Linked DNA regions of Homo sapiens: region 1 is linked to region 2. Evidence: fine-mapped expression QTL. A gene starts in region 2. The other region holds a variant in brackets. All regions are shown on one strand. Distances are from middle to middle.

What was found. PIP is the estimated chance that this variant, and not a neighbour inherited with it, causes the effect. A credible set is the group of variants that fine-mapping cannot tell apart.
Region 1: its variant is the best candidate, but not a certain one, in a credible set for the expression of PTGER3 in prefrontal cortex (GTEx, PIP 0.51).

What each region holds. Positions count from the first base shown.
Region 1 is chr1:70,539,525-70,545,060 of GRCh38, forward strand. No RefSeq gene overlaps it. Among named protein-coding and RNA genes, the nearest start is that of CTH, 130 kb to the left of the region's middle. The variant A/C (reference allele first, on the strand shown) is at 3,386.
Region 2 is chr1:71,045,283-71,050,282 of GRCh38, forward strand. PTGER3 (prostaglandin E receptor 3) reads right to left here and starts at 2,534. Exons shown (of 4, transcript NM_198719.2): 1 at 1,399-2,534. The coding sequence starts at 2,295. ZRANB2-AS1 (ZRANB2 antisense RNA 1) reads left to right here and starts at 1,224. Exons shown (of 3, transcript NR_038420.1): 1 at 1,224-2,307; 2 at 3,532-3,706. RefSeq lists an enhancer at 1,948-2,531.

The DNA.
Region 1 (5,536 bases), 510 kb before region 2:
TTTTTCCTCAAGTAATTTCTTTTCAGTTTTAGGCAATAAATAGAAAAATAATAATATAGCAGGTTTTCAGAAAGTTTTTGCTTATTTTCCATTGTTGATGTCAGATTCTAAAGTTTTGGAAACACTTATGGATGTAAGTATAAATTTTTTTGAAAACAAAAAGTCACTTAAAATCATTGTAGAAGGTACTTTAAGAAGAGTACAATATGTTGGTTAAGAGCATAATTTCTAGAATTTTGCTGCCCATTTCGATTCTATCTCTACCTCTTACTGGTCATAAAACTGGATCAAGTTACTTAGGCTCTTAGTGCCTCAGATTCCTTAAATATACAGTGGAGACATTAATAGATTCTTCCTTTACAGAGTTGTTGTGAAGATTAAATAAAATCATATGTGTAAAGCCGATAAAATATCTAGCCCTACTCAATGCTCAATCAATGTTAATTATTATTATCTAAAACTATCAATCCTACAGAATTCAGCCAAGGAGGAAAATGAAAACAAAAACAAAAATGGTGGAAAGATGATCATTTTGTTACACATGAATATCCAATAAATGTGTATAGATTATCACTATTAAAAGATAACTCGGTTGGGCAAATATTACAAAATTCAGCTATATGATATATCCAAGAGCCAAATATGAAATTAAACCCCAAAGAAAGATAACAAATAAAAGAATAACTAAAATATATATCAAGAAAATTATAACCAAATGAGAACTGGCAAAGTAAAACAAGACAAAGTAGAAAATATGGCAAAAGACATTAGTAGACATAAAGGCCACTACATAATAATAATAATTTTTGATATAAAAATTATAAATTTCTATGTACCCAATATTGTCTCAACATAAATAAAACCGATTGGGCAGTGGCTCATGCCTGTAATCTCAGCATTTTGGGAGGCCGAGGTAGGTGAATCACTTGAGGTCAGGAGTTCGAGACCAGCCTGGCCAACATGGTGAAATCTCATCTTTACTAAAAATACAAAAATTTGCTCGGCGTGATGGCGGGTGCCTTTAATTCCAGCTACTCGGGAGGCTGAGGCAGGAGAATCGCTTGAACCCAGTAGGCAGAGGTTGTAGTGAGCCGAGCTCATGCCACTGCACTCCAGCCTGGACAACAGAGCAAGACTAAGTCTCAAAAAAAAATTTATATATTTATATAAATTTAAATGTAAGTATATATTGATATAAATATATGTATTTATATAATATATATTTATTAAATATAAATATAAGTATATGTTTATCTATAAAACCAAACCATTGTGATTATGAATTTGTCAAATTTATCTTATAATTATCTTATTCCACATAATTATAAGAAAATTTGACAAATTCATAATCATAATAGGATATTTTTAATAAACCTTTATCAGAAGTTAGTAGACCAAGTAATAGTGTAATGATCTTGAACAAAACTAATGGCTTGTCCTGGACCTCAAAATAGAAAATATGCATTCTTTTTTAAGGATACATGAAAAAGTTATAAACATTGTCCAGGTGTTAGGTCTCAAAAGAAGTCCCTATGAAGGTCAGAGTGTGCTCTCTGAACACAGTACATTAAATTCGAAATCAAGAATAGAAAGCCATTTAGAAAGACTCTCTGTATTGTAAACTAAAAAAGTACTGCTACATGAGAGTTAAAGAATAAATGACAATGGAAATAGCAACCTATTTAGAGTTGAATGATGATGAAAGTTTTACTCATCAAAGTTGCCAAAAAAAGTTATGTAGAGGTTCATTTGCAGCTTAATTTGAAAATAATTGGGTTAAGCATTAACATAAAAAACTACAGAAAATTGACAAGAGGAAAGAAAAAAGATAAGATAAATGAATGAACTAGGAACCAGAGAGAATCAACAAAAGCAAAAGCTAGTTCTTTACTAAGATTTAGACTGTATTTATAAAATTTTGTATACATAAAATATTGTCTTATGAATTCTCTGTCATAGGTGGAAAGAATGTAGAGAGGCGCATTCGAAGAGATGGGTTCCAGAATTTTTCCACATATGTTTAGTCTCTGTTATCATGTTGCCTAATCATATAGATGTATTCCTTTCTTTACTTTCCACTATTAGCTTGCATTCTGAGAAATAAGAAAATATTGTCACAATTGAGATTCACATGGCTTATGTAGTAAATAAATTTCCTACTGCATTTTCTTGAGCATGCTTGTCCTACTACAAAGTCAAAACAAAATAATGAAGGCTAAATTAAATATAAATGTACATATGTATATTTAATTCAAAATAATACATTGCTCATAGAGAAATAAAGTAGAAAGTATACACCAGAAACCAAATTCCTACTTAGTGTGAGTTGAACCACATATGGTATGTTTCAGACATACATACAAGAATTGGTGGAATGTACCTAATAAATAACATTTTTCTTAAATTTCAGGGTTCAGGTTTTGTTTAGTTGTACCTTATTGTTTTGAAGCGACATTGGCTTTTTTTTTTTTAAATAGCCAAGCCTTTGACATTATGAAGAATACTGCCACCTATTTTATAATGGCAAGGTTACTAATGGGAACTGTCTTTCTGTGGATTTATTTCATCTAGGTGCTGATCTGCTGATGAATTCTAGGGGAAAGATTGTATTTTATTGAGTTAGTTACATTTATATAACTGGAATTGCTGTCATTTTCTCCTCTATAGAACCTTAATTCCCTTGTTCAAATGGCTCAAAATAGGTTGCCATTGAAGGCTGTAAAATAGGTGACAGAATGAGTTTTGCAGTCATAGAATATTCTGGTACCCTTATGTAATGCAATCACTTTGGACATTAAACTAAATGGGCTCATTATCTTTTCTTTTCAATCTGCTTCACAGTTAAGGAAAATGAGTATTAATCTAGAAGAATGTTTTATTCTTTCTCAACTCAAAACTTGTACTCTGCCTCTTTTATTAGAATTAGCTCTGCTGTCATGACCTGAAGATTTCCAGTCTCATGAATTCATTACGTTGCCACTTTATTTTCAAGAACAAGCTATGTACCCTTTAGATTATATTTGAATAAAATTGGCTTTGCTAATTATTACCAAAAGAAAATGGAAAGGATTAGAAATTAAGTTTGGTTTAGTCAGTATTTGTTGAATATGTAATATGTGCTCATTGTTGTGAGGGAAAAAGAACCGTAAGAAATGCTTTTGCATATTTTACTCAAAACTGACAAGTAATTAATTGTTCAAATCGATGATGCTAACTCTAAGTGCTATTTTGGACATTTTGACTTTTCTCTGGTCTACCAGGAGAATTAACATGGAAAGATTGGACTTTGGTTAATTCACACAAGTGCTTGGTGAGCACTCATCAATGATGGGATATAGTTGTGAACAGCACAGAGATAGTCCCTGCCTATATGATGCTGCAAGAA[A/C]CATAGAAAAGAGTTTTAGAGGGAATAGTGTCTTCTACTGGAAGCAATTTCTGAGATGTCAAAAAAGTGACAACGACTAATGTACTCTTCTATGCTCGGGAGACTCTGAAGGGGAGACCTGTGATTATAGGCATGTTCTGCCTTGTCTGTGTTTGCTCAGTGAGAGAAACATGAGTGATTGATTTCCAGGCCTGAAGGGGCATTTGACTCAACATTTGTCAAATGCTCCCATTCAGGTTCTCATCCTACACTGGAATAAAACACAATTTGTTTATTAAATCAATGCAAAAATGAGATTGTGGTTAAAACACAGTAAACCTATGCCATTCTTTGGGGCACATATTTTTCTTCTAAAGTGAAAAAAATTCTGGTGTAACTAGGGAATACTTACATTAAATCAATACCCTGCTGTTAAAACTAAGTTCTACAGAATGAATATACTACAAATATTTCACCAAGAAAAAATAATTTGAGCTGAGCTCATACATTATTATAACACTATATTATTTTTAGGTGTGAGTAAAATAAAACTGGTGGCATTTCCTTGCACATGGTAGCTTTCCTGTATATTGTATATAAAAATATATATACAAAAGGTACACGTGACTTCTTAGAAGTCTTTCTATATATAAGGTGTTGAAGATCTTATTTTGTACCAGCGACTTTGCTCAGTGCTTTACATGTATGGTGCTGTTTAATCTGTGCATTTATTTAAACATTACAGCAACTCATGAAATAGGGACTATCATCAGTGAGATTTTGCAGATGAAAAAATTGATGCTTAAAGAAATAAAACAACATATTCAATTTCACAGAACTATTCAGTGGCTGGTATTGGCTTTTAGATCAGATCTGCCTAATTACAAAACCTATTTTCTTCTTTTACTTCTTTTTAGAAATAGGGCCTCGTTCTGTTGCCTAGGAGCATAGTGTTGAGATATCGGCTCATTGCAGCCCTGAGTTCCTGGGCTCAAGTGATCCTCCCACCTAAGCTTCCCCAGTAACTGGGACTACAGGCACCCTCCACATGCCTGGCTATACGTATATTTCAATTTTTTTGTAGAGACAGGGATCTAGCTGTGTTGTTCACACTGGTCTCAGACTCTTGGCCTCAAGCAACCCTCCCACTTTGGCCTCCCAAATTGTTGGGATTACAGGCATGAGCCTTTGTGCCTGGCCTCAAAGCCTATCTTCTTAGCCATCCTGCTATAAGGTTTAAAATTATATTAGTCTAACTATAGTTCACCCTTCCTTCTGCTCCCACAATGTTTTTGCTCCTAATTAATTCATAGCCTTGGAGATTTTGCAGATCAAAAGTTAAGACTTGGCATTTTGACCTGCAAAACACTTATTGACCCTCATTAGTATTTATTGGTGCCAACTACTCTAGATGGCCCTATTTTTACTGATGTGTATTGATAGCTACCATTACTTGAAGAGTATTTAAAATGAGTCTGAAGTCTATACAAAGAATCCTTGCACCATATAATTAAAACACCTAATACACCTTTATATGACATCAGGGCATATCATATATAATCTCTATTTTTCTTCTCCCCCAAATCTGGTTTACCAGTTTTATTTTCTCCCCGCCCCATGTCCACACATCTTATGCTCTTGTAGTGCTTTCAATGACTTGATATTATGGAAACTTTCTGGGTTTTTTCCCAGAGCAAAATTATCCATCTGATGGTCCATTATCCAAATCTATAATGAATTACAGACCTGGTATATTTACTTTGTATATTGTTTGTAAGTTTTTTTTTTTTTTGAGCCAACAGTTCAAACCCAGGAAATTTTATATAAAAATCTGGATCCTAATCATAATCTGGCAGCACCGGGTCTAAATTTTTGCATGCTATTATAATAATGGCCTAGCTCTACTTAGTAGGTGCCCCTTTAGATAGTGTGAGTCCTTTTTCGTTTGCTGTAGACATATCACTCGCAATTGACTTTCCAATTCTAGGTCAAATGCTAGTTATCATTCATATTGTGCGTACATTGTCAGTTTCTCATTGTAGAGAAGTCTTTCTCTATATTATGTTTCAAGAGAAGGAAAATGGAATATAGACCCAAAGGTGTATGTCCTTCAAAAAAAATGGAAGAAAGCATATTTGTCTTTACATATACAGAATATTCAGCAATCTTTAA
Region 2 (5,000 bases):
CAACGTACTTAATGCCTAATGCCACTGAACTGTACACATAATAATGGTTAAAATACTGAATTGTATGTAATATATTTTACCATAATTAGGAAAGAAAAAAAACTGCGTTCACGTGTTTCAAAGGTTTTCCACAACTGTATAATACATATAGTTGGTTATACCTTTGTAACAGTGACCATATCGCTCTTTCTGCAACATCTATTAACCCAGACACCCCAGGGCCTAAGTAAGCATCCATTCTTCAGGAATTAGTAAACAGCACTTACACACGGACATTTCTAGCTAAAAGTAACACAGACAAAAAAACCTCAAAAATATCACGTAAGGGCAGGTGTTAGGCAAAGAGCCTCTGCAAACATCCCTTGCTCCTCTGCATTGCTCTGGTGTGAGGAGCTAGGACATGGAGAAACCTCTACCTCCTATCTCAGGATTAGCGAACCCTGCTTGAGTGCTACAAGGGTAAGTAAATGCTGGCCTGAAGAAGCTGCTGAGCTTCCGGATCCCACTGACTGTCGTTCGGGCACTTCCTAGAGGGTCAAGCACCATGGCGAAAGGCTGAGGAGGCAACTCGTATCTTTCATTCTCCTGCCTCATCAAGAATGAACCTTGAAGGCACCCATAGGTCGCGCAGTCTTTCAGAAGCTGCAGGAGGGCTGTGACTGTATGGGGTTGCAGACTGAAAATCTTATTAACGTGAAAGAGGAATTTGAAATTAAAAAAAAAAAACCCGGCCGGGCGCGGTGGCTCACGCTTGTAATCCCAGCACTTTGGGAGGCCGAGGCGGGTGGATCACGAGGTCAGGAGATCGAGACCACGGTGAAACCCCGTCTCTACTAAAAATAAAAAAAAAAAATTAGCCGGGCGTGGTGGCGGGCGCCTGTAGTCCCAGCTACTCGGAGAGGCTGAGGCAGGAGAATGGCGTGAACCCGGGAGGCGGAGCTTGCAGTGAGCCGAGGCTGCGCCACTGTACTCCAGCCTGGGTGACAGAGCGAGACTCCGTCTCAAAAAAAAAAAAAAAAAAAAACCCCACAATATCAGGCTACAGTTATCATAGCAATTCTGCTTTTAATGCACTCAGGACAAACTTCTAGCTCTGCATATATGTCATTTCAATGACACATCCTGTCTCCTACCCGACTAGAATGTGAGCAGCCCTGTGATCTCTATGTGCTCATAAACAGTGCCTAATGCGAATCCTGGCTCTTGGAAGGCGCTCAGCTAGTAAGTGAGGAGCTCAGCTCTGAAGCTGTAACCAAGACCGCGCGGGCAGGAGGAAAGGACACTTCAGCGCTCTGCGGTTGCAAACACACCCCTGCGGGTGCTGCCACTTAGCAAAGTCTTAGGTTCCCGCTTACTCGCACACGCATCCTGACTTCCCCCAACCCTGGAACTACCTACCAGGAGCGGAGACCAGCAGACCGACAGCACGCACATGATCCCCATAAGCTGAATGGCCGTCTCGGTCGTGATGCGGCCCCACTGGGCACTGGACTGAGATGCCGTGGCCTTGGCCCGGCAGCGGGACACCAGGGCCTTAATGGTGGCCAGGTTGCAGGAAAAGGTGACTGTCAGCGCCAAGAGCCCCAGGAAGGCAAAGGCAGAGGCGAAGAAAAGGTTGCCCCAGTTATGCGAAGAGCTAGTCCCGTTGCCCCCTCGCCCGGTGCTGATGAAGCACCACGTCCCGGGCCACTGGACGGTGTACTGGCCCACGCCCAGCACCGGCAGCAGGGCGAAGGCGAGCACGGCCAGCCACACGCCGAGCAGCACAGCGCGGGTGGCACGCGTCTTCATGTGGCTCGCATACCAGTGCGGCGCCCTGATGGCCAGCGCCCGCTCGACGGCCATGGCGCTGGCGATGAACAACGAGGAGAGCCCGAAAACAGTCATGGTCAGCCCGAAAAAGGTGCAGAGCCGCCCCGACGGGTCGATGTGCTCCCAACGCTGCTTGGACAGGTACACGACGATGACGACCGGGGTGGTGAGAAGCTGCCCGACCAGGTCGGTGAGCGCCAGCCAGCCGATGCACAGCAGGAAGGACTTCTTGCGCTTGCTCTCCCGGCGCCGGTAGCTGCGCGACACGAGCAGCATGGCCAGTGCGTTGCCCACGAAACCAGTGAGCAGCATGGTGATCGGGAAGGCCACGGACACCGATCCGCAATCCTCGCCAGACCCTGGAGGGCGCGTGAGGTTGCCCCGCGCCTCGGCGGAACGCTCGGGCGCCCACATGCCTGTGTAGGAGTGGTTGAGGCGGGTGCAGAAGGGGGCATCCCCTCCGTAGCCCCGGGTCTCCTTCATGTTGGCTTCGAGGTGAGGAGGGGATGGCGTCCAGAGAGCCGCAGCGGGAGGGGGCAGACGCGGCGCGGGCGGCGGCGGAGGTCGGCGTTTACCGCGGCTGGGGCTGGGCTGCCCCCCATGGTGCGGGGCGCAGCCGCCGCCCTACTCCGCTGCTGGGACCGCGGCCGCGGCGGCGCCAGGGCTCACTGGCCCGGGAGGGAGCCACGCCTTCCTCTCTGGGAAACCTCTGGTGGCGAGGCGCGCGGAGGTGCCGAGTCCCCTTTATAAGGCCGAGGGGGCGGGGCGCCCGTGGGTGTGGACAGAACCGAGGTGGGAGGAGGGTGCAAAGCAACTGAGCGCCTCTCTTGGCTGTTGCCTATCCTGATCGCCTGGGTTGGGAAGCCCCAGACGGTCTCCTCTGAAACGCCCTGCTCCTGGCCGGACCGGGAGCCCACTGGGGTCTCCTCCAGTTCTCCGCTAAAGTGTCGGTGGACGGCAAGCAGCTAATAAGTAGCACTGGACTTGCGGACCCCAGGCAAACTGCCGAGGCGCACCTGAGCGCTCGTCCTCCTGCTTCTTCAACCACAAACGCTCCTACAGGGACGGGATCCTTCTCCTGAAGTCCTTTAGTAACTCTGGTAAAGTGAAAATCGCCTGTCCTTAAGCAATCCACACAAGCCTTTGCATAGCTGATCGTTAACTTTTTTCCTTTCTGCTTTGTGACTCTAGAGTGATTATAAAAAGGCCAAGGTGTCCTGTCCCCTGGGGTGCCGCTGAAAACTATAAAATTACTAGACAGTGCCTGTAGACTTAAGGGAATAGACACAGGGAAACAAATACATCGGATGGTTGAATTCCAAGACCAAGAAATCCCAACTACTACCCCTCGCCTAATCCTGCCCGCTCCCCTCCCCACCACCCAACAAAAAGGTCAGCTATGGCAAAAGTGGCTACAGGAAGGTGGCATCAATTTGCATATCTGAGGTAGTGAAATCAACTGCTCCCAGCCTATGGGAGTGAGAGGGGAGCAGAAGAGAAAGGTATTCCTTACAAAGCCTCCAACCATCCTTCTTATCTTCATACAATAAGAACTAGAAAAGGTATTCAGATGTTATGAAGGCCTTAATCTATATGGAAACTTTGCCTTTGAAATAATAAACATTGAATGAAAATAGGCATACTTGCTTGCCTCGTAACATCTTTCAGTAAGCCAATATTTTATGTACTTCTCACAAGCATTTTCTCATTTTATCACAGAAATCCTCCAAGGTACTATTGCTATTATTATTTCCCTTAAAGGTGGGGTAACTGAGGCCCCATGAAGTTAAAGAATGTTCCTGAAGTCTCTCAGCAATTCTCAAGTCCCATCTTATTTGAAGCATGTATTCCTGACATGGGTCCCATAACTGCTCTCAGCAGATGAATATTAACGGTGAGATCATCTTCCCCTAATCTTGGGAAAGTCTTGTGTTTTTTGCTTTTTGCCTTTTTACACTGTCTAAGAGATGAAAAGATTTTTAAAAATAATTGCAAAGTTCATTTTTCCTCATATTTAAGAAATTAGACTTAATCATATAGCACTCTAAAGACCATTATTTTGATTGACACAGATCAACTTTCAGAACAAGCCCAATCAGTTTTGCCTTTCCTAGCTTAGCTGATGTTCTGTATGGGTGTTCTTAACTTTTAAATTACTGTTAAGAGGTAAGAATGGGATATGTCCCTCTGCATACTTTATGTGCTGTTGTCTTGATTCTGTATGAGAGTTTGAAAAAATATCACTATAACATTATATGTTTTTTAAAGAAGGAAAAGCAAGAATGCAACTTAAACTCCATTTTAATAAGATGCATTAATCACAACATGAATTTCATTTTGTGTTTTGCTGTCATTTAAAAATGTTTTGCACTTTTGCGTTTTACTGACTAAAATGTCACGTTTACAATGGGAACAACAGCTAGGAAGGGTGAAATGGTTTGATTCTAAAATCTTCCGTAAACTTTTGTCTTATTATTTTGAATTAATCTCAAACCTGTATTTGGGATAGTATTTTTCTAGCCTAATATCATTTGAAAATAAAATAATATTTGAGGTTATTCTTAGACAAAGCTTTATCCAAAGCATTTGGATGAAAGTGGCTATCAAGTTTATACCATCTATAGTTAGTAAAATTCTAGTGTAATTCAATATTTAAAATTTAAGACCATATCACCATTCACACAGCAAAGGAAGCAAGGCTTATCTTTTTCCAGTTACATCAAAAACTATTCTCATTTTTATTCACAAATATTTGACTTCTTTGAAACTTTTACTTCTCCCACTGAAGTGCTTGCTGTAGCCAATTGGACTTGATAAGCATGGTAAGCGTCGGGGCATGTATTAGTAAAGAATTGTTAGCCTCTCACTAACCTCTATGCCAATGAACAAAATGTGTTGCATTTCAGATAATTTGGGTATTTCTCTTCTTTCAGCACTTTGCTTCATCCTATATTGTCTGCCTTTAGCTATTCACCTTGTAAACAAGTGACTGTGAGGTTTTGTGGAGTAACAGTGTGAAGCTGGCAGTTGGATTCTGGTTGGTACTTTCTGGTCAGTTACTACGGATATAGTGTGAATTGTGTTGGTCTGAAACAACACCACCCTCTAGTGACCAAAAGGCTAATAACATGCTTTATGCTGTTTTAAAGAGAATTTCCATAGGGCCAATGGATGCTTTGCTTAGGGAA